5 linked regions of the Homo sapiens genome follow. The protein of the gene in region 1 interacts with the protein of each later gene in a pairwise test. Each region holds a gene or a part of one and is shown in the gene's direction. Other genes may lie near its edges. The genes, in order: KHDRBS3, NCOA5, SGSM2, HNRNPR and SERPINB5.

Region 1 (6,435 bases):
GTGGGATTGTACCCTGGCTACAGCTATGATAAGAAATCCTCTCTGTCCAGCTTAAGTTTGTGATAGAAATAATAATGCTTGAATAATAATGAACAATTATAATCTTTCATTAACATCATTATTTTGATACTCTATTAGAAAAGGATAAGTGTTTGTTTCAATAATTTGTGCTTTCAGGGATGAATTGCTGTACATAGAATGCAATTTTTAAAACTTGAGCAATGAGAGAGATTCAGATCAGATGGTTGAAATGTTCTGATTAGAACAATGAAGAGTTGGCGTAAGATAATGTTTTGTATAGTCAAAACAAATTTCAAAGGAAATTTATAGAATATTATGGCAGCTTATATTTACATATATTCCCTTATATTTTTTCCTTTCATTCAGTTTCTGGCCTACTTCTATTAATGTGATGGAAGCTAGCATGTATTGGTGCCTATTATATGTTAGGCAGTGTACTAGGTAGTATATACACTGTCTCCTTTCGCCAGCATTTATATAAAGCTGTGCCTTGTATTCTCAGTAGTTCTGCATTAATATACATGTGCTACCAATAAACAGATTTTGCAAATTAAGTATTGGATTACATACAGTCTGTCTAAACTCACATGGCTAGTGACTGGCATAGCTGAGATGAAATTATAGGTGACTAAATCCCATGCCCATTTCCCGCTCTGTGTATTAGTCTTTCTTTTCTTTGTAAGAGTTCAAATTAGTCAAGTAACAGAAGTTGAATCCTTCAAGGGTGAAGTCAAGGGCTATGTGCCTCTAGCATTTATTTTATTATTGGCCTCTTGCTTAATTGTGAAATTAAAAGGTGGTATTGCCAGGAATTCCTGGGGTTCTCTTGGTTATGGGATAGCCTTTTTGAGAGACTAGAAAGATTTCTTATCTTTTGGAAATTAGCCTCAGATTCCTGTTAATCTTAATCTGTCTGATACTAACATTGGAAACAGAGACTAATGGAAGACCCAGATTCTGAAATCAGGACCTAAAATTGAAGGTTAGTTAGGAAAAGGCAGTGGAGCAAAATCAGTAGTTCCTTAACGATCTGTTTTTTTCTCCTCCTAATTTTCGTCCTGCATTTCCTTATGGAAACAAACAAAGATTAAAAACTTTGTCATAATTATGTAAAATAACGTAATAAAGTCTTTCATTTTGTTTTATTCACTGTTTTATTCTCAGATAGAATATAGTGCTTGGTATGTAGAAATGTTTTTTGAATGAATATGCGAACGAGCAAATTGACATAGCAATGAATGAATGTTTAATCATTCATTCAACGAATCTTTGTTGAACATCTGTATACCAAGCACTTCTCTAGACATGGAAAATGCATCACTAAGCAAAGCAGTCACAGTGTCTGCTCCATGGTAATCACTTTTTACTAAGAGAAGATAGAAAATAGACATGTTTTTAAAAATAAGTTATTTCAGATAGTGATAAGTGCCTTGTACCAGCATCACAGAGACGCACACAGCCAGTGTAGAAGTGAGCACGTGAGCTCAGCCAGGTTGAGAAGCACAAAAGAAGTGTGGGCAGTGGCTGCGGAGGGTTGAGCAAAGGAGACTGGAGAAGGTGAAGACACCCTAGCAGCGGAAGTGAGCAGATGATGGGGCTCCTACAAGTCAGCGTCTGGAGTGGGACATTATTCCAGCAGCAGTAGGAAGCCTTTGAGTGTGTGTAAAAGCCTGGGAATATCAGGATCACATTTATAGCTTAAACCTTCTTTTTTAGAGTAGTGTCTACTGTGACAACCGCTTGCCAGATGGATTGTTTTTATTTTGGGGGTTAGTTTTTATTTATTTATTTATTTATCTTTCATTTCTTATAATGACACGTTTTTAAATGTGATTTCTTTTTTCCTTTTTCCAGGAAGAAGAGTTGAGGAAAAGTGGAGAAGCGAAGTACTTCCATCTCAATGATGATCTCCATGTTCTCATTGAAGTGTTTGCCCCACCTGCAGAAGCTTATGCCAGGATGGGACATGCTTTGGAAGAAATCAAAAAGTTCCTCATCCCTGTTAGTACCATTTTTCTTGATAGTTAACTTGTACTTTAAAGTCTTTGCTTTAATCCTTGATACTTCTTGTCTGTAACTGTTATTTGCATAGCTCCTTTTCTGCTGTAAAGCTGTATGGACATCACCTCAAGTAGACCTTACATTGTCCTTGTAAATTACTGGGCATTATTCCTTATGTATATATGAGGTGTTAGAATTTCAGGAAGATTTAATAATATGGCCAAGGTTACATGGCTAAAAAACTTGCATAGCACAATCACTAGTTCAGGTTTTGAAACGCTTTTCCTACGATTTTATGTGACACTGTACAACTTTTTTGTTCTCCAACACAAAACCATTAGTGCCTCTGTGTGCCATGCACAGTGCTTGGTGTTGGCATGCAGACTTGAATAAAAGCAGTCCCTGCCCTCATTTAGTATAATATAATACGTAATTTAGAGGAAAAGAGAAACATCAACAGATGATTTCAGTACAACATGATAAATATAACAGACATAACCATAATGAGCCCAGAGGGGATGGGCTATTTAGCTAGCTTCTGCCAAGTATTTTGGATGTTTTGTTAAAAATTGACTGTCTGTTTTAACCCTTTCAGACACCTTCACATTGCTAAGGATGTGACAATTTAAAGGGAATACATCTCTACCTCTGTTACGAAAGTTGATTTAAGTCTTTTGTGTGATTTGTATGCTCTTGATAAAAGGACTTATTATGTCATTTGCATGCTCTTGATAAAAAGAATCGTAAAGCATCAACACTTTGGCTCTGCAGACAATTTATTTTAGAGAAGCTGACACATCTGCCAAGTAGTTCTCTGGATAAGACTGTCTTTGGTTATCCCAGGTTAGTTTGGTGGATTGACTTACATACTACAGCACATGTACTGTGATTATATTATCTGTGAGGAAAACAATTATTATATTTATAGGGAAAGGATATTTAAATCACTTTTGCCTTTAAAAAGCCAGGACATAGAATTGCATTAAGTATGTAATAACCTGGGAACTGAAATGGCTAGTATTTTCTTTAGTTCCCATGAGCAAATATGACAATCTATTTCTTCTTTTAGTTTAAAAACAAAATTTCTAAGGGCTTACTATGTGGTAGGCAGATGTGAACTAATAAAATACATGATCCCTCATGGAGTTTAATGGCAAAGAGTCAGATATGAGTCAGTTTTTCATATAAATGACTACAAAATTGAAACTATGGCGAGACCACAGCTAAGGAGAGGAGTAAGTTTTGGTGATCATGCAGTGTGGACCAGGCAGTGCAGATCTAGCCAGGTGAAACAGATTCTCTTTTCCAAAGATGGCTGCAGTAGCACCATTTATCCCATGACCCTTACGATCCTTCCCCAGAGGTAGACTCTAATTTACCTCACACAGAATCTGGACTGGCCAAAAAAGTCTTTGCCTAATGAAGGTCACCAGGATTTTCTACTGTTTTATTTTAAAAATTTTTCAGTATTCTTTCACTTAAAATACATTTTGAGTTAATTTGTATATTTGAGGTTAGTCTCTAAATTTATTTTTTTCTAGATGGATATCAGTTGTCCTAGCACCATATGTTGAAAAGACAATCATTTCCTCATTCAGTACCTTAGTACCATTGTTGAAAATTGACTAAACATAAATGTAAAGGTTTATTTCTGCATTCTCAAATTCTTTTTCATTGATTTGTATGCCTACTCTTAATGCCAGTAGCATGCTCTTAATTACTTTAGCCTTAAGTAAATCTGGAAATCTAGGTTGTGTAAATTGTCCACCTTTGTTCTTTTTCAAACATTTTTTGGCTTTTCTGGCTTCTTAGCATTTTCATATGTGTTTTAGGATCAGCTTCTTAATTTCTATTAAAAAAAAGCTGGCTAGGATTTGATAGATATTATATTGAATCTATAGATCAGTTTGGGGATAATTTTCATCTTAACAATTTTGAGTTTTCCAATCCAGGAACATGAAATGTTTCTTCACTTTTAAAAAAGATATTTTAAAATTTTTCTCAACAGTGTTTTATAGTGTTCAGGGTGTCAGCCTTTTCCTTTCCTTTTGCAAAATTGATTTGTAAATATTGTATACTTTTTGATACTACTGTGAGTGCAATTTTTAAAATTTCATTTTCAGATGATTACTAGTGTATAGAAATGCAATTGAGTTTTGTATATTGATTTTGTATCTTGTGATCTTGCCAAACGTGTTTATTAGTTCCAGTGTGGTGTTTTTTTAATAGAATCACTACAATGATTAAGTGGAATCCTAATTAGTGGAATACAGGAGCATGTCATCTGTGAATAAAGACAACTTAACTAGTTCTTTTCCAATATGGATGCCTTTAATTTTTTTAATGTAATGTTGTTATTCTATTCTATTCCATTCCACTCCATTCCGTTCCTTATGACACTGACTAGAACCGTGAATGCAGTGTTGTTTCTAAAATTGGAGGGGAAAGCATTCAGTCTTTCACCATTGGCTATAGGTTTTTTTTATTGCTACCCTTTGTCATGTTGAAGAAGTTCTCTTATATTTCTAAAGGATGAGAGTTTTTATCATGAATAAATGTATAAACATGGGTATTGAATTTTGCAAATCTTTTTCCTCCTGAGATGATTGTGTGGTTTTATTCTCCTTTATTTTGTGAATAATAGTGTATTACATTAGTTGATTTCAGATGTGAAGCCACATTTGCATTCCGAGGATAATTCCCACTTGGTCATGGCATGTAGTCTTCTTTATGTGTTGCTAGATATGGTTTACTAATAGTTTGTTAAGGATTTTTACATCTGTAATTATGAAGGATATTGGTTTGTCGCACAGTATTTTTCTGGAGTCTTTTATATTAACTTATACTATTTTGGGTGCCCTTCATTTCTTCCTGTGGATAGAGCTGCCATATGGTATTATTTCTTTTCAGCCTGAAGGTTTTTCTTTAGACTTTCCTGTAACCTAGGTCTGCTAGCAAAAAGTCTTTTGTTTTTCTGGGAATGTCTTTATTTTACCTACATCCTAAAAAACAGGTTATATAATTATTGATTGATCGTTTTTGTTTTTTGTTTCTCCAGCACTTTGAATATGCTACTCTGCTACCTTCTGACCTCTGTTATTTTTGATGAGAAGAGTCATTAATCATTTTGCTGTTCTCCTGTGTATAATCTGTTGTTTTTCTCTTGCTGCTGTCAAGATTTTTTCTGCCTCTGGTTGTCAGCAATTTGGGTGTGATGTATGTTTATCCTATTTGTTGGCTAAGCTTTGTGCATCTGTAGGTTTATGTTTTTCATTAAATGTGGAAAGTTTTCAGCTATTTAAACTTTTTCTGTCTTTCTACCCCCCACCACACCCCCTAATTCCAGTTACGTGTATGTTGATACACATGCTGGTGTCTCATGGATTTCTTACATTCAGGGTTTTTCATCCGTTTTTCTCCATGTACCTCAGACTGGATAATTTTAATGGACTAGTCTTCAAGTTAACTACTTCTGCCAGCTCATAGCTGTTATTGAACTCCTCTAGTGAATTTTTCATTGTTGGCAATACGCTTTTTAAATTTTCTTTTGTTGCAATTCCAACATCTGGGCCCTCTCCAAGACAGCCTCTTTGTACTGCTTTTCTCCCCCTGAGTATAGGTCACGTTTTCCTGTTTCTTTGCATGTTTCTTAATTTTTTGTTGAAAAGTCTGTATTTTCGATAACATAGCAAACCTGTAATCTGATGTATTTTCTTCCCAGAGGAGTTTTTGTTGCTGAGGTGTTTTTTAATTTTTTTTATTTTTTTGTCTTCTATTTCTTTAATAATTTAGTTGGAATAAATTTGCAGCCTGTCTTCCTCATAGTTACAGCTAATAATATCTCTGTTAATGTGTTTTTTTCTTGCGTTTATTTTTAAACCTGGCCTGCTAGGGATGTTGTCTGTGTCAGCACTGCTTAGTGGACAGCCAAGGGGAGCTCGTGTTCAGACAGCTGTGTAAGTGAGGTTTCCATCCTCCGATGATGGAGCTGTGTGTGTACATAGGGGAGTGGATCCAAGAAGACTCTCGCCATGTCCACCCTGGCTTTTCTGTTGCTCTGGGATGCCTCCTGTCTCCGCTGCATATATGTGCACTCACCTTCAGGAAAGGTTGTATGGAGAGCTTTGCCTCACTCTCTTCTTGCTGTCCATGCATATAGCCTTCCATCCAGCCAGAGGTGTGTGGCGAGCTTTTCAAGACTGTCTCATTTTCTGAATTATCTGTCCAATTTCTGGCTAGCCTGGTGGTCAGTTTCTTGACGCAACCCAAGATGGCAATACTAGGTGCATCCTTAGGCAAGCAGGCCAGACTCTCATATTTCTTACCTGAAATGTAGCACTTTTTAATGAATAAATATATTATATTTTCAGTTTATTGTGTACCATTAGTCAGTTTTCAGACTCCTAAAATGGT
Region 2 (5,671 bases), on another chromosome or scaffold:
TTTTTGCCTACTGACCAAGTAACTATGACTGACTATCTGCATTATCTAGGCAAAATAGGTTTTTGGTTTTTTTTATAACTTTTACCTAACAGCATCTCTTTTTTAGATGAAGGCAAACATGTCTTTTTAAAGCCTGGTTTTTCTCAATACATCTTTAAAGGTTCTTAAATTATTTCATACCTGGCCAAGTTGAAATCTTTAAGAATCTCATTTTTAATTTTAATTTTTTAATTTTAAACTTTATACTTGATTTTTTTCTTTTAAAAAAAGAACTTTTAAATTTTTAATTTTAAACTTTACTACTTGATTTTTTCCCCAAAAAAAAAGCAAAAATGCAGATTAGAATAATAATAATATTCTTATCTGTCAAGTTGGCAAGACTTAAAAAGAATGACAGTACTCACTGTTGACTAAGGTGTGGAGAAATAGGCACTAGATGATCTACCTCTGTGGAGGTATAAATTAGTATCAGCCTTCTCAGGGAGCAGCTTGGCAGTAAGTATCAGATGCAGCATTAAAATGGCCACGTCCTTTAATCCAGCATTACATTTTGGTTAATTTATAATAGTAAAAAATATTAATACTGGCTGTTTTTAGGAGATAGACCAGAGGATTGATTCAGAGTATTATGACCTTTGCCTACAAGTAGCTCAGGATTTAAAATGAGGGTCCAGTCCTTATTTCAGTTTACCCTGGTGGTGTTTTGCAGAGCGTTTGAAACGTGAGGAACGGCGTAGAGAAGAGCTTTATCGTCAATATTTTGAGGAAATCCAGAGACGCTTTGATGCCGAAAGGCCCGTTGATTGTTCTGTGATTGTGGTCAACAAACAGACAAAGTAAGAACCCTTAGATATTTCTCCCCAGTAAGGAGAAGAGTCAGAGAAATTCAGGCTCCTGTTTAGCACCTCTATCCACTGAATCTGAGCTGTGTATTCTTGCATTGCTGTGCGCTGTTAGCCAGGGTTCTTTCAGTTATAGGTGACAGAAAACTCAATTCAAATTGAGGCCAAAAGGGACATTTTTCATTTAAGCAAAAATTAACTGGGAAATTGAGGCACAGCCACATCCAGGATCAAACCATGTCATCAAAATTGGTCTCTGTGTTAGTCTCTAAGCACTGTTTTCCTCAGATTTGCCTTTGTTCTCAGGCAGGTTTTGTGCTTGAAGAGGCAGAATGGCACTGGCCCTGAACGTGTGTCTTCTTAGCTTAGCAAGCCAAGTGGAAAGAGAACTTCTCTTTCCCAGTGTTTCCACCTGAAGTTCTGCAGTTCTTTTTAGATTGACCTGACTCACTTTCCCATCCCTGAGCCTGTCACTTTGGCAGGGGTGCTGGGTGTTCTGATTGGCCAGGGCTAAGTCATGTTCCCATCCCAAGAGCTAGAGGTGGGATTAGCCCTGTGGAACCATGCAGACTGAGAGTGGAAGAGGGTGTAGCCGCTGGTCAAGCAGAGTAGTATATACTCCCTTCATGGGACAACCCAAATGCCCAATACTTTGGGAGACACGCCTCTGCATTTGTCAGCCAAGAACCAAGTCTTTGTGAAGTACCATGGCCTTGCAGAACTGTTACATGACCATGTTACCAAGCTAGGGCTTATAGCATTGTTTCACTGCATCCCTGTTTTACATTTTCTCCTTGAAGAGGCAGAGCAGAGAAGCAGAAAGGAGTATAGCAGCTTGCAGGCTTGGCAGTAGCTATGTTCCCTTTCCCTAGGTGGTACTAAGTAAATAACTTCATGTATTTTCTAGCAGTTTGGGGTTAAAGAGCTAATTTCAAGGCAGTGACTAGGGAAATAGGTGTTGAGACACCAAGCAGTAGGCAGAGTTCACAGGCTCTTGGCTGTCTTGTTCAGTGATAGATGCTGCTTTTAACTCTAGAGAGCTTTTTTTGGACACATGATAATAGCTGTTATTTTCTGAGCACCTACTTTATGTACTACCCCATACTAGGTGCCTTACATAAATTATTTTTAATCTTCACAGTAATCATAAAAAATGAGCATTCAGCAAATCTTTTATACGTATGGTGGATGGCGGGTATTGGGGCTGTATAGCCTCATTCCACTGGTGGAGCTTACACCCAATGGGGCAGGTGACAAAAGCATACAGGTGATGAGTCCTATGAGAAGAGAATGTCAGAGATCTAATTTAGATTGGAGGGAAGGTCAAAAAAATGACGTATGAACTGAGCCATGTTACTCCTGTTTTATTAGTAAAGAAACTGATGTTTGTAAGAGGTAAATGGACTTGCTTAAGCTTCACAACTTTGCAAATAAATTTTAAGGGCTGGGATCCAAACCCATGTTTCTAGCGTTAAACCCATGATCTTCCCACTGTGTTGTGCAGCCTACCCAAAAAGAGATAAGTGCCACAAGTCTTAGGGAGCAGGATGGTCTTAAGGAAGGACCACAGGGCTAGAGAATCAAGAGAAGGACCTGGGTATCATACTGTGCTACTGGCAACTTCTGACGTGATCTCAAGCAAGTCACAACCGTTCTGAGCCAGGGTAGAGAGAGAGTATTGGTCTAGATACTTGGATCCTGAATACGGTACTGGGGTAGACTAAGGTTTGAGTTATCAGTAGGAACACACACAACTGGCTTGAGACACACGATGCAGATTTGGAGTTGGTCGCTCACCTGGATCTTATTTATTTTTACAGAGACTATGCTGAGTCTGTGGGGCGGAAGGTGCGAGACCTGGGCATGGTAGTGGACTTGATCTTCCTTAACACAGAAGTGTCACTGTCACAAGCCTTGGAGGATGTTAGCAGGGGAGGTTCTCCTTTTGCTATTGTCATCACCCAGCAACACCAGATTCACCGCTCCTGCACAGTCAACATCATGTTTGGAACCCCGCAAGGTACAGAGTCAGAATACCGGAGGTAGTCACTAGTCCATTATTAGTCCTTTATGCCTTACTCAGAAGAAGCAGGTTTTGGGCAAATGACTCTTATATCTCAGTTCATATATGGTAGGGCCCCTCTCTTAAGTACCATGGAAGAGTCTTGCATAGTCACTTACTTATCTGATAGTTTCTTAGTGGATCTCTGTTACACTATACTTAGCCACTAGGTATATACAGTGGTGTGCTGGCACACGTGTAACAACAAGTTCCAGTGTGGGGGGAGGGCGTTTATAGCATTTGCTGATCTCCATGGTGTAAATACTCCCACCATGTTTCAGTTCAAGCCACCAACCTGAAGTCACTGAAGGGAGAGTTGGAAAGAAATGTACACAGTTGGCTCTTGCCACTGAGATCTGGCTCCAGCACACCTCTGCCATGTACTCCACTGAATGTGACAAAATCCTTGCTTCTGCCAGCTTTCTAATGGAGGACAGAGAATATAACAGGCATTTAGGGTCCTTTTTGTAAGTGTGCTGGAGAAGTAACCAGAGGGGCTAAGAGGCCGTGACCCTGTAGAGGCCCAGGCCCAGTTCTCGAAGTCCTCCTCAGAAGTAGCTTTTAATGCATTGAGCCCAGAGGATTAAGAGTCCGCCAGCTGATACCCTGCTCCTCACTCTTACAGCACAGACTTAACCCTTTTCCCACTATACGCAGGATCTCTCTTTGCCTCACCCATTACCCTCATAACCATACAATTACATAAGGATCTCCAGTGGGTCATTTGTCTGAGGAATAGTCCTCAAGATGTGTGAGGACAAAAGTTCTAAGGAGTCCTCTCACTACCCAGTAAACCATGTTGCCCATGGGTGAGGAGAGGAGGTTATTTAGGGTCACAGTTTGATCTTAATCTATGACTTTTGAACTGATGAATTAAAAAATGGTAGGCCAGCTCTGTCCTGAGGAGCACAGTGGAGAGCCCTGCTTTCCAGAGGGGCCTGTTGGCCTCCTGCTGCTGGTCTAGAGGCTGTTGGGCCTGCCTCCCATGGCTGTTCCCCACGTGGTCTGTTTGAATCTGTGGGAGGATGTCATGTTTCTTTGGTTTTTACTACAAGTCTGTGATCTAGGAATTCCCCCAAAGAACCAGCTGTATATAAAGGTGCATCTCCTCACCAAAAGTGTTCGTTCACTTCCCTTCCTGGCCTTCATCTCTCCCCCCACACCACCCCACTCTCAATCTCAAGGCTTTTTGTCACCAAAATGATTTTCTTGCTGGTATGAGGTTAGGAAAGACTTGACAGAGTGCAGCAGGTGGGCACTTAAATATGTCATGGAAGAAAATAACTCATGTCATTTCCTCCTACAGAGCATCGCAACATGCCCCAAGCAGATGCCATGGTGCTGGTGGCCAGAAATTATGAGCGTTACAAGAATGAGTGCCGGGAGAAGGAACGTGAGGAGATTGCCAGACAGGCAGCCAAGATGGCCGATGAAGCCATCCTGCAGGAAAGAGAGAGAGGAGGCCCTGAGGAGGGAGTGCGTGGGGGCCACCCTCCAGCCATCCAGAGCCTCATCAACCTGCTGGCAGACAACAGGTACCTCACTGCTGAAGAGACTGACAAGATCATCAACTACCTGCGAGAGCGGAAGGAGCGGCTGATGAGGAGCAGCACCGACTCTCTGCCTGGTGAGCTACGTGGCAGGGCCGAGGTGAAGTTCTGACTCTGCATTTCTCTAATCCCCAGGCTCTGTTGGGAGGGTGTCAGGCCCAGGGCTCTTTGGAGTGGGTAAGGGAACTAAGTCCATCCCTTGGGTTCTCCCGTGGGCCACCCATGCTGATATAATGTTAATAATAACTTTATATTTGGGTACTGAATGCTGATCCCTATAGTTAATGTGGTGGATTGACTAGTATTGCTGGCTCCGTGGTAGCCAGGATGGATGCCCTTTTGTTTTTTAGCAGTTCTCTAGGGGAACTAGCCTATTGTTTTCTGTAAACAGCACATATCATGAAGCGGCCTCTTTGGGAAATTGATGTTATCGTCTGTGTACTGTATGATTGATGTGACTCAGTGATTGTTGTTCTTCCTTTGGCTGCTAGGCCTCCTGCCCTTGGGGGGTACTTTGAACCAGATACCTCCCTCTTCTGTCTTCCAGGCCCGATTTCCCGCCAACCACTCGGGGCGACCTCGGGTGCCTCGCTGAAGACACAGCCAAGCTCCCAACCGCTCCAGAGCGGCCAAGTGCTCCCCTCTGCTACACCCACTCCATCTGCACCCCCCACCTCCCAGCAAGAGCTTCAGGCCAAAATCCTCAGCCTCTTCAATAGTGGCACAGTGACGGCCAATAGCAGCTCTGCATCCCCCTCGGTTGCTGCCGGAAACACCCCAAACCAGAATTTTTCCACAGCAGCAAACAGCCAGCCTCAACAAAGATCACAGGCTTCTGGCAATCAGCCTCCAAGCATTTTGGGACAGGGAGGATCTGCTCAGAACATGGGCCCCAGACCTGGGGCTCCTTCCCAAGGGCTTTTTGGCCAGCCTTCCAGTCGCCTGGCACCTGCTAGCAACATGACTAGCCAGAGGCCTGTGTCTTCCACAGGTATCAACTTTGACAATCCAAGTGTACAGAAGGCTCTGGATACCCTGATCCAGAGTGGCCCTGCTCTCTCCCACCTGGTTAGCCAGACCACAGCACAGATGGGGCAGCCACAGGCCCCCATGGGATCTTACCAGAGGCATTACTGAAGCTAAATCTTTCAACTCTCCCCAGTCCCCTCATCCCCTGGCCTCCTCCCACTTACTTGTTCTAAATAGAGCTGTTTGGA
Region 3 (5,962 bases), on another chromosome or scaffold:
AGTTCAAGAGTTTGAGACCAGCCTGGGTAACATGGCGAAACCCTGTCTTTACAAAAAATGCAAACCTTTGCCGCATGTGTTGGGGTGCGCCTGTAGTCCCAGCTTCTCGGGAGGCTGAGGTGGGGGGACCACCTGAGCCATGGAGGTTGAGGCTGCAGTGAGCCGTGATACCACCACTGTACTCTAGCCTGGGCCATAGAGTGAGACACCCTGCCTCAGAAATAAAATAAAAAAAAAGAAATAGAACAAACAAGGCACATTGTCATTTCCCACGTGCTTTGTTCTTAATCCCCTATCCAGGAACACATTCTCCCTCTCTCTGGCTTTGGGTTTTGTAAAAATCTGTCTGTGCCAGTGCCCAGCTGCTGAGCTCATGGACAGCAGTAGCTCCTCGCTGGCGTATTAGATTGCCACAGAACCGTGGCCTTACCCAGCACTTCATGCTTCCTGCCCAAAGTAGAAACTACTTTTAGCATTGCTTTCCCTACGTGGTGAAAACAGAGAGAGAAAAATCCCAAACAGTCTCTGTATGTGTCTCTTCTTTTCCTCGTGCCTTGTCCATGGTGGTGGACTGTATCTAGGAGGCAGAATGTTTGCTTTTCCTTCCTACATCTCCCCACCTTGCCTGAGGGCTAATGGAACTGACTAGGTGCTTGCTACAGAACGTTCCTGTCTTGTCCTGCTGAACACTCAGTACTGAAAATAAGGCAAAACTTGTTTTTCCTAAAACCTCTAGGCTTCTCTCCACCCAGCCACACCAAAACACTAAGGCCATTCTCCCGGTCTCATGACTTCAGGCGTTTCTAGAATGAGACTGAGTTCAAACTGGCCATTGAGCGTTCAGCCCCCTGGCTCCCCTACTTCCCTTCAGTAGCCACAGGAAGACCTGGGGCTGTTCCTTCAAGCAGGGCTGAAGACGTGTCTTCATGTTTGGCCAGAGGCTTGTTTCTCTCCGCCTGGCTGGCTGGGTCAGAAGCTGGCTTGGTGCCCCGTGGCCACAGTGTTGGAGGCTGTGGTGGGAGAGGGGGTGTGAAGAGTTTTGCATTCCAGCTCCCTTCTGGCCCGAGGAGGCGGTGGGCTGCGGGAAGGTGCTGGAGTGCAGGTGGAGCCGCCCTGTGTTCACCCCCCAGGTGTTTATCTCAGTGGATGATCTGGAACCCCCGGAGCCCCAGGACCCTGAAGATTCCAGACCAAAACCTGAGCAGGAAGCAGGACCCGGGACTCCGGGCACCGCCGTGGTGGAGCAGCAGCATTCCGTGGAGTTCGACTCTCCAGACTCAGGACTGCCCTCCTCTCGCAATTACTCCGTGGCCTCGGGCATCCAGTCAAGCCTAGATGAGGGGCAGAGCGTGGGCTTCGAAGAGGAGGACGGCGGTGGGGAGGAAGGCTCCAGTGGGCCCGGCCCTGCAGCTCACACTTTGAGGGAGCCCCAGGATCCCAGCCAGGAGAAGCCTCAGGCCGGAGAACTGGAGGCCGGAGAGGAGCTTGCGGCTGTGTGTGCGGCTGCCTACACTGTGCGTACATGCTCCCCAGGCTGTTCCCAGCCGCCCCAGAGGCCCTCCTGACATCCCAGAGCTGGGGAAGCGCTGGTGGGGTGGAAGGCGGGGCGCCCTGACTGCCCTGGAAGGGAGTTCTGAGCCCATTTCTCAGCATCCCCACAGGACTCGCTCTGGTCTCTGGGTTCCGTTTTGCTGCATTTCTTGGGGCGTCACCTCCTGCCCCCAGCCTGGGAAGGGCTGCCCGGTCTCATGCCTGAGGGCCCTCCACTCTTCCAGATAGAATTACTGGACACTGTGGCCTTAAACCTGCACCGCATAGACAAGGATGTGCAGAGGTGTGACCGCAACTACTGGTACTTCACGCCCCCCAACCTCGAGAGGCTCAGAGACGTCATGTGCAGGTGCCTTGTGGGGCGGGGCTCAGGGTGGGAGGCGGGACCCTGCCGCCAGTTACTCTGTGAAGATGAGGTCCGGAAGGTGCCCTGCTCCTCTCTCCTGCTCCTGAATCACACTTGGCTCCCCCTGCCTGGAACGCTTTTTTCCTGCACACCCCTCCCCCGCGCCTCTTCATTCTTAGGGGCCTACCAGACCTCCACTTCAGCCACACCTCTTCAGGAAGCTTTCCCTCATCCCCGCACCCCCGCCCCACATACCAAGCGTGACGGCCTTGGCTCTCCCTAAGTCGGAGTGCCTTGGGGGGGACCCGTGGGTTGTTCCCCGTTGTCTCCCTGTGGGGGGTGCACAGTACATGCCTTAGGGTCGTGGAAAGGCTGACTTCTGGGCGGCAGGTGGCTCTGGAGGACGTCTTCCCAGGGATCCCGAGGGAGGGAAGAATGGGGCACAGCCACAGTGACTCTCCCCCTGCCTTTCAGCTACGTGTGGGAGCACCTGGACGTGGGCTATGTGCAGGGCATGTGCGATCTGCTGGCGCCTCTCCTGGTCACCCTCGACAATGGTGAGGGATGGCGGGACATGGGACTGGGCTGCGTAAGCTGGAGAAAGGACGAGAGGGTGGCCAGGTCTGGAGGGGTGGGAATGGGAGCCGGCTCTGTCCCCTGCGTCTCCTGCCCTGCCAGCTTCACTCCTGTCTCCCCTCAGATCAGCTGGCCTACAGCTGCTTCAGCCACCTCATGAAGAGGATGAGCCAGAACTTCCCCAACGGGGGTGCCATGGACACCCACTTTGCCAACATGCGCTCCCTCATCCAGGTGAGGCCGGTTGCCACCCATGGGCATGGGAGCAGGCAGTGCTGGGCTGGTCCATCGTCCACATGGCTAGGGAGCATTCCACAAACATACTTGACATAGAAACTTAACTTCTTTCATTTTAAAAGACATGGTTTCAGCAGGGCAACGTGGCTCAGGCCTGTCATCCCAGCAATTTAGGAGGCCGAGGCAGGCGGATCACGAAGTCAGGAGTTTGAGACCAGCCTGGCCAACATCGTGAAACCCCATCTCTACTAAAAATACAAAAATTAGCCGGGCGTGGTGGCACACACCTGTAGTCCCAGCTACTCGGGAGGCTGAGGCAGGAGAATCACTTGAACCCGGGAGGTGGAGGTTGCAGTGAGCCGAGATCACACCACTGCACTCCAGCCTGGGTGACAGAGCGAGACTCTGTCTCAAAAAAAAAAAAAAAAACCATGGTTTCAGCGTTAGAAATTGAGGAGGAGTGTGTGTGTGTGTGAATGCTCGTGCCCATGAAAGTTCTGGCGAACAGTAGGGGTTGCTGATGACATCAGACACCCAGAAAATCCTATAACCCTAAAAATAATGCAGCTCAGAGAGATGGGTGATGGGAGGGGCAGCAGGAGCAACCCACCCTCCACAAGGAGATCCGAGGGGGAGAGAGTGCACCGCGCAGCACAGGGCAACAGACAGACCCACTGCCAGGTTGGGGATCGCCTGCATCCCTGGGCGTGAGCGGACGGTGAGTGGCGGCCAGAGGCAGCATCGGCTCAGGGCTCAGCCTCTCTCCCTTTTCCCACCCACATAAGATCCTGGACTCAGAGCTGTTTGAGCTGATGCATCAGAATGGAGACTACACCCACTTCTACTTCTGTTATCGCTGGTTCCTGCTGGATTTTAAGAGAGGTAAGAAGTGGGTTGGATCATGGGGCTGAGGTCAGGGACAGTGAGAGATCCCTCTTCCCCCAAGCCAACAGTTCTCAATCCTAACTGGACCTTGGAACCACCTGGGGAGCTTTAAAACCTGCCAGAACCCTGGCCCCACCCAGCCCAGACTCATGAACTGTGGCTGCCTGGGCCTATGGGTTCTTAAATGCTCGCTGACCAGACACAGTGGCTCACGCCTGTAAACCCAGCACTTTGGGAAGTCAAGGTGAGAGGATCGCTTGCACCCAGGATCTTGAGACTAGCCTGGGCAACATAGCGAGACCCTGTCTTTAATTTTTAAAAAAGAAAGAAAAAATGAGGCTGGGTGCGGTGGCTCATGCCTGTAATCCCAGCACTTTGGGAGGCCAAGGCAAGCAAATCACTTGAGGTCAGGGGTTTGAGGCCAGCCTGGCCAACATGGTGAAACTCCGTCTCTACTAAAAATACAAAAATCAGCCGGGCATGGTGGCGGGTGCCTGTAGTGGAGGCAAGGTTATGGTGAGCTGAGATTGTGCCACTGCACTCCAGCCTGGGCAACAGAGCCAGACTGTGTCTCAAAAAAAAAAAAAGAAAAGAAAAGAAAAAATTGAAAAGAAAACAAAATTTCCATAGGTGATTCCGAAGTGCCACTAGGGTTGACAGTTACAACTCTCATAGATCATAGTTTGGGGAACTTTTTTCAAACCAAAGCATTCCTGAGCACCAAGATGGGAGGCCTGTGACAGCTGCCCGGCTGAAGTGCAGGCAGAGTCTGCAGGAACCCAGTGTGCAGAAATTACCCAAGAAAAGGATGGGGCCTTGGTACGGGGTACAGAACCCCCATTCCTGAGCCAGGCTCTGTGTCATGGAGAGAATCCCACGACTTTGGCCCCTGAAGCTCTGATCCCTCACCTGGCTCCATTTAGAGGCCTGTGAGCAGCCAGTCCGGCCAGCATCAGCCCCAGCCCCAGCCTCAGCCTCAGCCTCAGCCCCAGCCTCAATCCCAGCCTCAGCCTCAATCCCAGCCTCAGCCCCAGATATGCGGCTAGGACGGGTGAGCAGCAGCCGCTTACTCTCCGCAGAACTGCTGTATGAGGATGTGTTTGCTGTGTGGGAGGTGATCTGGGCAGCCAGGCACATCTCATCGGAGCACTTTGTCCTGTTCATCGCCCTCGCCCTGGTGGAGGCCTACCGAGAGATCATCCGTGACAACAACATGGACTTCACTGACATCATCAAGTTTTTCAATGGTACGAGCTGGTCCAGCCATCCAGGCTGCCCTGAGCAGAGGTGTGGAGGCCCCCACCTCTGCCCCGCACACAGCTGGAGGGTTCTCAGGAATCCTGGGGGCCCTTCCCCAAAGGCCGGGATGTCAAGAATCTAGCAGAGCAGATGGAAACAGAGCAGGGTAGTCAGCCACCTCCTAGCCTGCTGCCCTTTCTCTGGGCCTCTCTACAGCTCTTCACGTTTCCCCCCAGAACGTGCTGAGCATCACGATGCCCAGGAGATCCTGCGGATTGCCCGGGACCTCGTCCACAAGGTGCAGATGCTCATAGAGAACAAGTGAGCTGGGGCCAGGAGGCAGCAGCCGTGCAGAGCCTGGGCTCCGGCAGGGAGAGGTGCAGGGGAGTCACCGCCCAGACCTCCCCAGCCACCAACCGACCCCACCTCTGTTCCTAACAAAGCGGTTGTGAGCCTGGATCCGACTCCCGGCAGTGCTGACCCTGCAGGGCAAGTCAGGGGCCAGGATGCCCTCGGATCAGGGCCGGGATGGGAGGGGTCAGCCTCAGGGAGCAGCTGCCTTGGGGGACACACCTACTCTGCTCCCCTCTCACACATCTGGGAGTAGCCCCACTGCCACCTGCAGCCGCAGCCTGGACTGCTGCCCACGAGTGAACCTGGGGCCCCACAGGATTAACAGGGGCTATAGCGGCCTGGGCCCTACTCAGCTGGGGTGGCAGAGGGCGAGAGGCTCTGTGCTGTGTCCCTTCTGAGGGTCCCTTTGCAGTCCCAGTATATTGTGCGTGCACCAGCCCCAGCTGGAGCAACCAAAACTGCTTCTGGTTTAGGCACACGTCACGGGTGCGGGAGACCCGGGCACGGGAGACCCGGGCCGCCTTCAGGCCGCTCCCCCGAGATTCTGGGGCAGTCGGAAGATGTGGGCCCTGGGTGGGAGCAGCCCACTTCAGCAGCACTGCCACTGCCTTTGGCCACCTGAGGTGACCCCCAGGCCTCCCCGGCCTTGTACAGTGTACCTCTGTGTATCTGTACAGCCTCGCTCCTGCCACCCCACCCTTGCGTTCTGCATTAGGTACTTCCCTGAAAACCACGTGTAAGAAGTGATGCTTTTGCCAGTGGATGATCTGGAAT
Region 4 (6,435 bases), on another chromosome or scaffold:
TGAATTATGTTTTATTTAGATTTATAGCTAATTTTTCTTTTTTTAAGCTTTTTTTGTAGTTTTTATTTTTAAAAATATTTTATTTATTATTATTATTTTTTGAGACAGAGTCTTGCTGTGTTGCCCAGGCTGGAGTGCAGTGGTACGATCTCGGCTCACTGCAACCTCCACCTCCCAGGTTCAAGCGATTCTCCTTCCTCAGCCTCCCAAGTAGCTGGGACTACAGGCGCCTGCCACCATGCCCGGCTAAATTTTGTATTTTTAGTAGAGACAGCATTTCACCATATTGCAGGCTGGTCTCGAACTCCTAAGCTCATGATCTACCCGCCTTGGCCTCCCAAAGTGCTGGGATTAAGGCATGAGCCACCGTGCCCCGCCTCTTGTTTTTAAATGATCAGATTCCCTTAGTGTATTGTCCCCATGAAGAAAGGCAAAAGATTGTCATGTTTGCTCTTATTTGTTAGTGGCAAAATATGCATGGCAAGTCCTGTAAAGGGCCCTCAATTCCCTCCTGATTCCTGTACTTGCGTTGCCAGGATCTTAATAGTGGTGCCTTGAGTACTGGTTCTTAAGTTTTCCTTTGGGCGACTCCTGGGACACATCAGAGTTGCATTTCTTTTTTTTTGAGATGGAGTCTTGCTTTGTCCCAGGCTGGAGTGCAGTGGCGCGATCTCCACTCACGGCAAGCTCTGCCTCCTGGGTTCACGCCATTCTCCTGCCTCAGCCTCCCAAGTAGCTGGGACTACAGGTGCCCGCCACCACAGCTGGCTAATTTTTTGTATTTTTAGTAGAGACGGGGTTTCACCATGTTAGCCAGGGTGGTGTCCATCTCCTGACCCTGTGAACCGCCCGCCTCGGCCTCCCAAAGTGCTGGGGTTACAGGTGTGAGCCACTGCGCCCGGCCTCAGAGTTGCATTTCTGCTGCTTGCAATGAGCTCTTGAGCATTTTAGTTGTCTCTTCCCTTCACAGGGAGGCAGCAACTCTGAATGGCCATGAGTTAATGGTTGGATTCTTCTTGATAAGTCAGAAGTCAAGGTTTTTATTCCAGAATTTGAGGAGGCAAACCCTCGTTCTAAGTAGTTTGGAGGAGAACTCTGGTTTATACTTGTATAAAGTCTGGGTTGGCAGTGACATCTTTGGGTTAATCAGATAAGTTCTATTCAGAATGAACCAGAGAGGCTCTCAGAAGTGCTACTCAGTATCTTTTATCTCATATTCCTTGAGTAGATGGGTGTCTAGGAAAGGGATAGAGAATTTAAATAGCTCTGAGTTTTTATTTTGATTTTTTACTAGCTTGATTTTAATTCCTATTGTTTCTTCTCCTAATACAACTATGACTTTGGGTAAACTACTGAACATGAATGTCATCTATTTTATTGAGCCTGGATCAATCTCTAAGATCCACCACAACTTTGAATCTACCTGTAGTAACTAAGTATAGCCTGTATTACTTTTTCTGTAAAAATATTTTAAAATAGTATTATAGATGTATTATAATAGAGGAATAAAATATTATAAAAGAGGAATAAAATCCCATGAAAACCAAAAGTATAGCTTGTAATTTGCTTACCAGCCACTTCTCACATAACCTTTAGTAACTGCTCAGATGGAAGTTCATCCTAATCTTTTTTTAGGGTTAGAAAACTTCAAGATTTCATTCTGGTAACTCCTTTTTCCTAGATCTAAAACAGGTTTCAGAATGAAAAGGAGGTCTCTATAAACTTAGGATTAAATATTATGGAGCCCTTTATTGTTTCTTTTTTTTAAAAGATGGGGTCTCATGTTGCCCAGGCTGGAGTGCAGTAGCTGCCCACATGTGCAGTCATAGCACACTGCAGCCTTGAACTCCTGGGCTTAAGCGTCCCTCCTGCTTCAGCCTCCCGGGTGCTTGCAACCCCATCCAGCTCCTTTATTGTTTCCTAATTGAAAAGAAAAGTTTATCCATTTGAGTAAAGCTTCTGTTATTCACACTATCAATTTACAATTCACTGAAGATTTTTTTTGCCAAGTTGGGTCAGTTTTACAATGTACCATAACCTAAAAGCCTAAATATATGTCTCTTAAAGGGACCCTTTTTCCTGTTGAACATTTTAAACACAATTTCAGTAAGTAATTTTCACATAGTATGTTATCGTTTCATCATAGAAAAGTCCATGTTGAATTTTTTTTAAAAAGCAACTAAACCAGTGGGAGTCTGTGTAACATAGAGGCTGGACCTTAGTATGACAAATTGAGAATAATAAAGGGGATGGAGCGTTTGTGGAAAATGTTAGTTTTTTTCCTCCTTAAATTAGTATCTTCTTATTAGATAGCCCTTTATCTGAAGCAACAATTTGTTCAATATGTTAGTTTTTTATTTGGATAGGTACTATGTTTTCTTAGTTCAAAAGTTATATAGAAAAGTATAGACAAAGAAATTTCCTTTCTACCCCTATCCCTGTGTCTACCAAATCCCCTTTGTCTCCTATAAGGCATCCAGTTTTAATAGTTGCTGGTTTCCTTTTAGTATTTCCTTCGGCAAATATGGATATACTTCCTTAATTCTTAGATGAGTGGTAGTAATGTTGGTAGCCTACCATATCCACTGATCTACCTTTTGTTTATTCACCATCCTGTTTCATCAGCTCTGAGGAAATACATCATTACTATATGTACTACTAAATAGTTAAAAAACACTGCCAACTAAACTATGGCACAGTACTTGCTTATCACATTGACTGTAAGTTGTCCTATCCTACAACTCATAGAGCTCCTCTTCATTTTTTGGGTTTTTGTTTTTTTTTTTTTTTTTTTTTTTTTTGAGACGGAGCCTTGCTCTGTCACCCAGGCTGGAGTGCAGTGGTGTAATCTTGGCTCACTGCAGCCTCTGCCTCCCGGGTTCAAGTGATTCTCCTGCCTCAGCTTCCCGAGTAGCTGGGGTTATAGGTGCCTCCTACCACGCCCGGCTAATTTTTGTATTTTTAGTAGAGACAGGGTTTCACCATGCTGGCCAGGCTGGTCTTGAACTCCCAACCTCAGGTGATCTGCCCACCTCGGCCTCCCAAAGTGCTGGGATTACAGGCGTGAGCCACCGCGCCCAGCCCTCTTCTTCATTTTTTATGACTACATAGTAGTCTATTCTGTGGAGGTACTATAGTGTATTTAACCAGCTGGATATTGTTTCTAATCTTTTGCTCTTACAGTGCTGGAAGGAATAAGCTTATGTTAGTTGATACAAGTGGAGATATATCTGTAGGATAGATTCTTAGGGGTAGAATTGTGGGCCAAAGGGTAGATATATCTGTAATTGTTAAGATACTGCCATATTCCTTTCTGTAGGAGATACACTATTTTACATTCCTACCAGCAAAATACAAGAGAATTATTTTCCTCATTCTTGACAAAATAGTGTATAATCAAACTTTTGAATTTTGCCAGCCTGATAACAAATGTCTCAGTGCCATTAATGATTAATGATTTGCTTCTCTTACTATGAATGGTTTGAACTTTAAATATATTTTAAGAGCCATATGTGTTTCTGTGTATGAACCATGTATTCAGGAATTTTGCCTATTTTTCTATTCAGTTGTTGAGCTTTTTGTTATTTTCTGGTGCTCTGATATAAAAGAGAGATTAGCTGTTTGTGATACATGTTGCAAATTTTTCATCCATATTTATTGTCTTTGCTTATAGTATTTTTTTGCCATATAGAAGTCATTTATTTTTAGTAGTTGAGTATAACATTCTTATGGCTCCTAGATTTTAAGTCATAAGGTCATCCCCACTCCAGTGTTATATAAAGGAATCATTCTTGTTCTAAAATTTCACAGTCCTCCCTCCACCCTTTTATTATTTAAATTTTCAATCTATTTGGAGTTTATCCTTGTGTATAGTGTAAGGCATGGACCAGCTTTTCTCCTTTTTTTCTAATTTAACACTACCTGATTTAATGATTTAAGCATTATAGTTTGTTTATATTTGGTAGGGCCAGCCTCTAAATTTCACTCTTTTTTTTCCTGGTTATTCTTGCTTATTTATTTTTTCATATGAACTTTTGAAAGTTACTCAGTTTTAGAGGAAAGAAACAGAAAAACTTGTTTTGAAAGGGACTTTTTGTTGATTAACTTGGTAATAATAATTATGTGTTGGTTCCTTGAAGGTTCTACTCAGTGTTAGGTGCTTTAATGACAACATAGGAGAAGGCAGGAACCAATAATTTTTGTAAATTGGTGACTGATATCAGTGTCATTTTCCTAGCAATTTCTCTTACTACCTGTAACAACACTTTTAGCACTTAATGTTTTAGAGGAGAAAAGCTATGCTATGAAGACAGGAAGAAACACTTTTCAGGTAAAATTAAGTAGCCAATGACGGTTTTGTTTATTTGTTGCTTACTAGGTAAAAGTTTTGTTTGTGAGAAACTTGGCTACTACGGTGACAGAAGAAATATTGGAAAAGTCATTTTCTGAATTTGGAAAACTCGAAAGAGTAAAGAAGTTGAAAGATTATGCATTTGTTCATTTTGAAGACAGAGGAGCAGCTGTTAAGGTAGGAATTTTGAAATTTTGGTTCTTGATATTTGAATTTTGTTTTTGAAACTTGCCAAACACAAAGTAACTTTAAAAACTGAAACAATATTGGTTGTCAGCTTTTGCTGAACTCTTTCTATTTAATCTCTGTAAAGTGGTAATAGTATGTAACAGATAAGACTCCATATTTCAAAGCCAGGTTATTACTGAGTTTGTGATCTTAGGCAAGTTATTTTTAATCTCTGTATTGTTTTGTAAGATTCGATAGCATGATGCCTTGGAAGTATTACAAGGTATAAAAATTAGCTGCTGTAAACACTGAATAGGTAATGAATGCATTATAACTACTTAGTTGACCTCAGTTTGTGTACCTATGAAGGAAACTGAGTGGTGTACATGACTCATACAGTATACCATGTTTAATTGAGTAGATAGATTTTGAGGGTATGATTAGTTTTACCTTTATTTAATCATTTTAGAGTTAAAATAGCATTCACTATGTTTTACTGATTTCGGTAATTGTTAGAGATATCACTTGTGTATAATAGTTGATTTAGTCTTTGATGATAATGAAAAGTTTGAAGAAAGTATTTTCATATGGTATCTGGAACACAAAACCTGCTTTCTATCGACAATGGTTTAGGACTATCTTTAATGGGTGAAATTTTCAGTTTCTTTTTTTTATTCATCTCTCCTTCCTTGGGGGGGTGGGAGCAAGACAAAACACTACTAAAATCTTATTTATGTTATTAGGAAGATAGATCCAGAATGCTTAGTGACACAGGCATGGTTCTTTTTCTGCATGTTTGGTCGGTGGGATACTGCCATCTCTAATCTGAGCATTTTTTGGTTTTGTTTTTTGCCCAGGCTACTGCTTTTAAAACAGGCTTTATAGAATCCCTGATTGGTTTATAATTAATTGGCTTGCTCATTGATGGTAGCTAATTAATGAGGCAGTATTGTTCATAAAATTCATAACTTGTCCAAGATCACAAACTCAGTAATAATCTGGCTTTGAAGTATGGAGTCTTATCTGTTATGCTGTTATACTCTTATCCGTTCATTTGTGGCTTCTGAAATTTCACTGGTATAGAATGCAGATAACTAATAATTTTATGCTGTCTAAATATTCCTCCTGACTCGACTGGTTTCAAATAACTGGTTGTCCTGATTGAAAATATTTATAGGATGGTTTGCCAAAGAAGCCTATGAAATTATAAAATATCTAGTCCAGGAACTGGGAGTCACCAGGATGGTCAGGGCAGAGGGTAGATGTTTCATTTTTTAATTTATGCCAGGAAGCTTTTGTAAACTTGTTTAGTTGCTTTAACTGAAGCAACGCAAAGCTGAGGTGGTAAAAGGGAAAATTGCAGTCTTGAGGACTAGTTTCGTTTTTGTCTAGATACTTATAAATCACTGATAGCTCCAATAGAACATTTTTTTATGTGTGCCCAGAGTGGGGAAAGGTATAGGGAAACAAAAAATAAAATATCATGAGGAGGTGACATTTTGTTACTGAGTACCTGAACCTTTTGATGTATGGCAGAGGTTGTTAGGTGGAACAACGTGAACAAAGGGCTAGAACATGGAATGTTTGATTACTGCTTTCTACATAATTGCTTGAGTCTTCATTAGTCCAGGCCTTTTCTGGCTCTGTACTTTTAACTGTTCAAGCAAAGTACATTTTGGGTTAAGCATTGTGAGGGAAACCTAGGCTTTTTTGTGTTAGTATCTTCTTGAATTTTACAGATAATCTCACTCAGTAACCTCATTTGTGCTTCAAATCCTTGAAATTGTCGTATAAGAACAGTGGAAGACCTGTATGTTGTATGCTACATGTTTATTTTAAAATTCTAATCCTGAGAAGTTAATCTTTGTCTGGCTCGTATTAATACTGGCATTTTTCCCCGGTATGGATTTGCTTCT
Region 5 (6,435 bases), on another chromosome or scaffold:
CTAGTTTCTCTTGGAGGATAATAAATACGTGCTTGGAGGAGCTACTTGTGTTTGTTAAAGCAGTTTGTGTGTTTTCATATTATTATCAGTGCGATTAGCTCTCCACTGGTGGAAGTGTTAAGAAGCTTTCAGGGATCTGGGTTTAGGCTTCTCTATTTGGTGAAGAAATAACTCATTACTTCTTGTACATGTTGAGTTTTACTTGTAGATGAACTTGGCATTACTAATATTAAATGTGCTGTGGAAGGAAGCCAGGTTTCCTATTCTGAAAGTCTGTCCACAGATTCCCCAAACCTTTTGTGAAGAGTTTCTTTATGTTTTCCCAGTGGCAGGCACACTGGGTGAAACACTCAACAGGCTTTCATTTTTGCCTCAGTATACCCTGCTGACCTCAGTATACACCTAATGCCAGTCACCTTTCCCTGGGGTGTGATGTCACCTGTAGGCCCTTGCCCCTGCCCTGAGGGGAGAAGGAGTAAGGTTGTGGGCTTTAAAGAAAAGTGAGAGGCCCACCTGACTTCAGGGGGCCTCGTGGTATATTTGCAATGGGAACTGGCCTGAGCGCATGGCTGTACTTATCAGGGACATATGGAGAAGGAGGAAGCCCATGGAAATGACCAGTGAGCATGAACAGAGTCAATAAAACATTATTTTTGGATAATGAACTCGCTTTTTCAGACTCTGAGATATAATCGATTTAAGTCCATCCTACACACAAGCCATATATCCCATAAAAGGGAGAATTCTGAAGAAATGTTTAAAGACCAGGAGTCCTCTCCTCCATCTTATTCTCGTCTTTGCATTCTGAATTTGTGTCCAGGTATAAGGTGCAAATTGCAATCCTATTCATCATGCCTTTGACTCTTGACACACGTTTGGGTACTGGCCAAAGGGAGTCCTCTATCTTAAGCAGTGGAGCTTACTTTCTAATGCCAGGGTGCATGTCCTACCTGAAGACCTTCAATGTCACATTCGGCCCTTGTGTCTGTGTGTGTGCGCCTGAGGCTTTGGGGGAACACTTCGAGTTTAATCCCTGTACTGCTCACCCCGGGGTAGTAATATCAATTCATTTCCCTTAGAAACATGCTGTCCTGGCTTAGGCAGAACCTCAGGAGTTCATGTAGTTCAGCTCTGCTCCCAGAAAGGGAAGCCCTGACTGCCTGAATTTACCTAATTGTCTTTGGAGTCGATCAGTAACTACCAGACTAAATAGGTAGGTAGACCTTTATTAGAACAGTGAAGCTTTTTAAATCTGAGGACCCTGTTACACTCTTAAAAATTACCGAGGACCCCAAAGAACTGTTTCTTTAAAAAAAATGTAGATTATATCTATCACTATTTACCAAACTAGAAATGAAAACCAGACACATTTTGAAATGTTCATTTACTAATTTATTAAAATAATATAATAATTAAATACTAATATGAATAATATATATATTAAAAAACATTTTCTAAAGTGAAAAAATGTAATGAGAAGAGTGATATTGTTTTTCATTTTTGCAAATCTCCTTAATATTTGGCTTAATAGAAGGGATGTCATATAGCCTCTGGAAAACTCCGCTGTCTATTAGAGATTGAGAATGATAATGTCTTAGTATTATCATGAGAATAGTTTTAACCTCATGGACCTCCTGAAAGGGTGTTAGGGACTGCCAGGAGTCAAGACACAACACTTTGGAAGTTGCTGTGTTAAAATTAAAGAGCTCTGAGATGTGACAAGATGCCTAGTTGCTGCTATATCCACTTTACCAGGCTACATATTTTGAAACTGTTCCCTCTTTTCTTTAACTCCCATATTACTTATTATACCACTCACATGTCTTGGGCAGCTCTGTATTCTAGTTATTTGTCTGCATATCTGCCCAAAGAGACTATGAGCTTAGAGAAGGAGGAGGTCCACTGATCCTTGTAACACTCTGGGTAGTGTCTTACACACAGATGCGTATTATAAACGCAAACAATAACCGCTGCTGTTTATTAAGTATTGTTATGTGCTGGGTGTCCTGCAAAGGCATTAGTTACTTTAAGGGTTTTCTAGCACTTCTCACAAAGCACCACAAACCAGGCAGCTTAAAGCAACAGAAGCTTTATTCACCCACAGGCTTGGAGGCCAGTACTTTGAAATGACGATGTCGGCAGGGTCATGCTGTCTCAAAAGGCTCCAGGGGAGAATGTTCCATGACTTTCTCTTGGTTTCTGGTGTTGCCAGCAGTTCTTAGCATTCTTTGGCTTGTGGAAGCATCCCTCCAATCTCTGCCTCCATTGCCATACGGCATGCCCTTCACACAGGTGAAGACATTTGTGTCTTCACATCTTCCCTCTGTGTATGTCTGTTTCTGTGTCTCTCCTCTTATTCCTTTAAGGACACCAGTCATATCGGATTAGGGCTCACCTAACTCCAATGTAACTTCATCTTAACTAATTATATATTAGTTAAGAAATAGGACATACCCTGTTTCCACGTAAGGTCACATTCACAGGTAATGGGGATTAGGACTTAACATATCTTTTTGGGGGACACAATTCAACCCATTACACTTACTAAATATTAAACTGAACAATGCAAAACTGCTGCAATTCGACTGTTTTTGTTTTATAAAAGTTTTAACTTTGTAGTTTAACTGAAATCCTAATGGAAACAATATGTGATAAATAAAACCAACTGATGTTGATTAGTGCTGTCAACTTTTCTGACATATGCTGGAGAAGAGATGTGACCACTGGGCTCCCGACAATGGCCACTGTGGCTGAGCAGGCCCAAGACTGCAGAGTCTAGGCAGAGCTGGACACACAGAGGACCTCACATGCCTTCAGACATTTGCCTGGAAGTTTCTTCACAACTGATCTTACTTTTGAATTTACAGAAAGTTCCTTGTTTCTTCTGAGATCAATTACTTTGTTTAAATAGAATTCTTATAGTGTTGGCAGAATGCAGTTGAGAAGACGTTAAAGATGCTTTAGAAACTAACTGCTCCCTTGTCCTTGCTTCCAGGCCCGCAATGGATGCCCTGCAACTAGCAAATTCGGCTTTTGCCGTTGATCTGTTCAAACAACTATGTGAAAAGGAGCCACTGGGCAATGTCCTCTTCTCTCCAATCTGTCTCTCCACCTCTCTGTCACTTGCTCAAGTGGGTGCTAAAGGTGACACTGCAAATGAAATTGGACAGGTAAGCCCCAAAACCTTGTTTCTACTTTAAGTGGGAATACAGTTATTAGAACCCATAGGCAGTGCCTACGGAAAAAAGGAATGTAGACTTTGTGGCCAGAATTGGTCAAGATTCAGAACTGTGCCATTCCAGGACTCTCTTAATCTTTTTTTTTTTTTTTTTTTTTTGTGAGACAGGGTCCCACTCTGTCACCCATGCTGGAGTGCAGTGGTGCGATGTTGGCTCACTGCAGCCTCCAGGTTCAAGCGATTGTTGTGCCTCAGCCTGCCGAGTAGCTGGGATGACAGGCGCGTGCCACAACGCCAGGCAAATTTTTGTATTTTTAGTAGAGACAGGGTTTCACCATGTGGCCAGGCTGGTCTCGAACTCCTGACTTCAGGTGATCCGCCTGCCTCGGCCTCCCAAAATGCTGGGATTACAGGCATCTTAATTTATTTTTAAATGTGAAAGCTCGCTTGTAGGTAATGCAACTCACATCTGGGACAGGCACCAGGCTGTGATGGAGAACCTGGAGATCTGCTGGGTAATCACAGCTTTTTCATTCTGACTTATAATATTTTCAATTTACAATGGTTTTATTGAGATGTAACCTCATCATAAATCAAGCAGCATCTGTATCGTTTTAGGGTTTCTTTCTGGCTATGGTTGATTATCTAGCTTTGTAAAGTTCTTAGACCTTCAAATGAGACAATTTTCCTGATTGTTCCGTTTTAAGTCCTCATGTACTTTTACATAATAGGTGAATGTTCTTCTAATTCTATTTCATTATTACTCTTATGCTAATCATTCTAGGTTCAATAGAATTTCTTTTCTATTAGCTCATAAGCATTTAAAAAGGCAACACCTTCTTGTATTCATATGTGTCCAGAAAGTATGGCCCATAAGAGTTATTTAGGTAAGGATGAAGAATTTACACTTGGGACTTGAAGCAGCTTCACTCCTGTGAAGAGGAGATGTATCTTGACATCAAGCCACATCTCTGAACTGCGCAACTCCACTATCCCTACCCAATCTCCCATTCCTCATTTCTCATCTACCATTAGAGAAAGGCCAGCGAAAGAGAACTTCCGGGTAGTGGGTCTGTTCCTCAGTAATTCCTCAAGCTCTTCTCAGTATATGCAACTGGTTCCCCAGCAGTAGTTACCTGGGCTCTTAAATTTTCTGGTCTCCTTCATCCATCTTTAGGCATGAGAGTTATGCACTGTCTGGGACCAGCATTTGACCCTGCAATGCTGAGGCTATGTAATTCATTGGGACAATGTGCCGGTTTGGCAGCGTTCGTTATCTGGGTTGTGGAATCACAGCATGGCCATTATGAGTTATGGAGCGAGGAGGGTGTCATCTTATGCTGACATTACATGTTGTGGTGTTGCAAGGCAGAAAAGATGCTGGACTATTGGTTGGAACAATAAAAAAAAAAAAGGAAAAAAATACAATGATTTAAGCCCTCCAAATGATAGTATCCTGGTTTTAAATGGCTTACAATATTATTACAAGAATAATTAACAGTTTGAATCCATATAATATTTTACGTGTTTTACATATAAGTAATCCTCATTAACAACTCAGGAAAGCAGGTATTTTCAGCCCATTTTACGGAGAGGAAAGGAGGCTCTGAAGAGTTGGAGAAGATTCTCTGAAGAGTTGGAGAAGAGGTGGTGAAGGCTGGGATTCACAGGCAGGGCCATCTGACTCTAGCCAGCCCAGGGCAGCCCACCATTTATTGTAGCTGCCCATCAGAAATGACACATCTATTTACCTGGCATTTGCTAAAGCACCCAGAGGGACTAGACAGACTCTGGCTAGAGGCACTTGTCCTGAAATCTGATTCCTGCCTGATGATGGTGTCTCTTGTATCAATCTCTCTCTCTGGTCTTTGAATTGGATAGAAATTATAACCCAGCTTCATCGTTCTCCAAGTTTGGAAATCCTTCTGTGTGAGTATTAAGGGCATCACTTTGAAGAAAGGACAAATGTTCTCGATGGTTGATTTGGAAGAGTACCTTTATGGTAGTGTTTCTCAGTGGGGACAATTTGTCCTCCCCTTCCCACTCTGGGATAATCTGGCAATGTCTGGAGACATTCTGGGTTCTCACAAATAGGAGGAGGATGCCACTGGCATCTAGTAGGTCAGCGATGCTGCTAAGCATCCTGCAGTGCCCAGGACAGCCCCACAAAGACTCATCCAGCCTGAATGTCAATAGTGCTGAGGTTGAGGAGCCTTACTTTACGGGAACTAGGCAGGAGGAGTCTGTATGCCCAAGGACGTTGGTCATTATCACGTGTCCACTTCAGTACAGCACTACTCAGAGGCAATGCTTTTTGGGTAACGGATTTTTCTCTTAACAGGTTCTTCATTTTGAAAATGTCAAAGATGTACCCTTTGGATTTCAAACAGTAACATCGGATGTAAACAAACTTAGTTCCTTTTACTCACTGAAACTAATCAAGCGGCTCTACGTAGACAAATCTCTGAATCTTTCTACAGTAAGTTGTTTAAAGCAAGTAGCAAGACTTAACTTTTTACAAGGAGTGGCATTTTCATGCTGTTAGACCTACAACTTTTTTTCAGTGAAATTCCTTTCTAGGATGTTCACTTGTGATTTGAGGCTTTAAATAAATAAATCCTAGTGGAGAGGTTGAGTATAGTGGGAATCAATTGCAGTCACATCTTCTAACTCAAAATACAGAGAAGCTTATGGGCTTTCCTTTTCTCTCTCAAATAAATCTTACCCTTTCTTTTACCTTCCTCTGAGAGAATGGAGAACAGAGTAATTAACTCTCTAATAAATGTAGCTCCATAGACAATGAGCTGTCTTACAGAGTGTAAGACAGCTAATGATTTAAACTTCTTTCTCCTTAAAGAGCAGGGCATATGGCCTGGGACAATGTTTTAAGCTCTCCACCTCATTTTTTATGCACACATTCTTCTGATGTTTCTCAAAATCAGTAAGAAAAATAATAACTATGAATTCACAATTTTCATCAGTCACAAATTAGTTTTGTTGGCTGGGCTGGTCAGATGGGGATCTCCACAGGCAGCTCTGGTTATATAAGTTTAGCCATTGCTCTAAGGAATCATACAAACACCACTACGGTACCCATTGTTGTAATATTTAAAAATCTGTATTTGAAACACACAGACAATATTCTAGACTACATGAAGTTTCCCTCTGTACTTCAGTAACACAGAGTTGATTTAGTTCCTGTTTGGATGGTCAGAATTTCAAGGTTTCCAAATCGAAAAGCTAGACTACCAGCTTTT

Evidence for each region.
Region 2: the proteins of KHDRBS3 (region 1) and NCOA5 interact in a two-hybrid assay, tested with the Homo sapiens proteins (one large-scale study listed by BioGRID).
Region 3: the proteins of KHDRBS3 (region 1) and SGSM2 interact in a two-hybrid assay, tested with the Homo sapiens proteins (one large-scale study listed by BioGRID and IntAct).
Region 4: the proteins of KHDRBS3 (region 1) and HNRNPR interact in a two-hybrid assay, tested with the Homo sapiens proteins (one large-scale study listed by BioGRID).
Region 5: the proteins of KHDRBS3 (region 1) and SERPINB5 interact in a two-hybrid assay, tested with the Homo sapiens proteins (one study listed by BioGRID).

The regions. Positions count from the first base shown.
Region 1 is NC_000008.11:135,546,879-135,553,313, forward strand, and holds part of KHDRBS3 (KH domain-containing, RNA-binding, signal transduction-associated protein 3), read left to right. Parts: intron 1-1,875; coding exon 1,876-2,022; intron 2,023-6,435. UniProt on the Homo sapiens protein: RNA-binding protein that plays a role in the regulation of alternative splicing and influences mRNA splice site selection and exon inclusion. Binds preferentially to the 5'-[AU]UAAA-3' motif in vitro.
Region 2 is NC_000020.11:46,062,220-46,067,890, reverse strand, and holds part of NCOA5 (nuclear receptor coactivator 5), read left to right. Parts: intron 1-709; coding exon 710-836; intron 837-2,662; coding exon 2,663-2,862; intron 2,863-4,210; coding exon 4,211-4,531; coding exon of another isoform or gene 4,532-4,554; intron 4,555-5,001; coding exon 5,002-5,591; 3' UTR 5,592-5,671. UniProt on the Homo sapiens protein: Nuclear receptor coregulator that can have both coactivator and corepressor functions.
Region 3 is NC_000017.11:2,374,362-2,380,323, forward strand, and holds part of SGSM2 (small G protein signaling modulator 2), read left to right. Parts: intron 1-1,130; coding exon 1,131-1,514; intron 1,515-1,775; coding exon 1,776-1,900; intron 1,901-2,371; coding exon 2,372-2,454; intron 2,455-2,597; coding exon 2,598-2,707; intron 2,708-3,495; coding exon 3,496-3,592; intron 3,593-4,674; coding exon 4,675-4,842; intron 4,843-5,050; coding exon of another isoform or gene 5,051-5,070; coding exon 5,071-5,159; 3' UTR 5,160-5,903; coding exon of another isoform or gene 5,904-5,935; 3' UTR 5,936-5,962.
Region 4 is NC_000001.11:23,311,646-23,318,080, reverse strand, and holds part of HNRNPR (heterogeneous nuclear ribonucleoprotein R), read left to right. Parts: intron 1-4,378; coding exon 4,379-4,528; intron 4,529-6,435. UniProt on the Homo sapiens protein: Component of ribonucleosomes, which are complexes of at least 20 other different heterogeneous nuclear ribonucleoproteins (hnRNP). hnRNP play an important role in processing of precursor mRNA in the nucleus.
Region 5 is NC_000018.10:63,481,427-63,487,861, forward strand, and holds part of SERPINB5 (serpin B5), read left to right. Parts: intron 1-2,995; 5' UTR 2,996-3,002; coding exon 3,003-3,170; intron 3,171-5,519; coding exon 5,520-5,657; intron 5,658-6,435. UniProt on the Homo sapiens protein: Tumor suppressor. It blocks the growth, invasion, and metastatic properties of mammary tumors.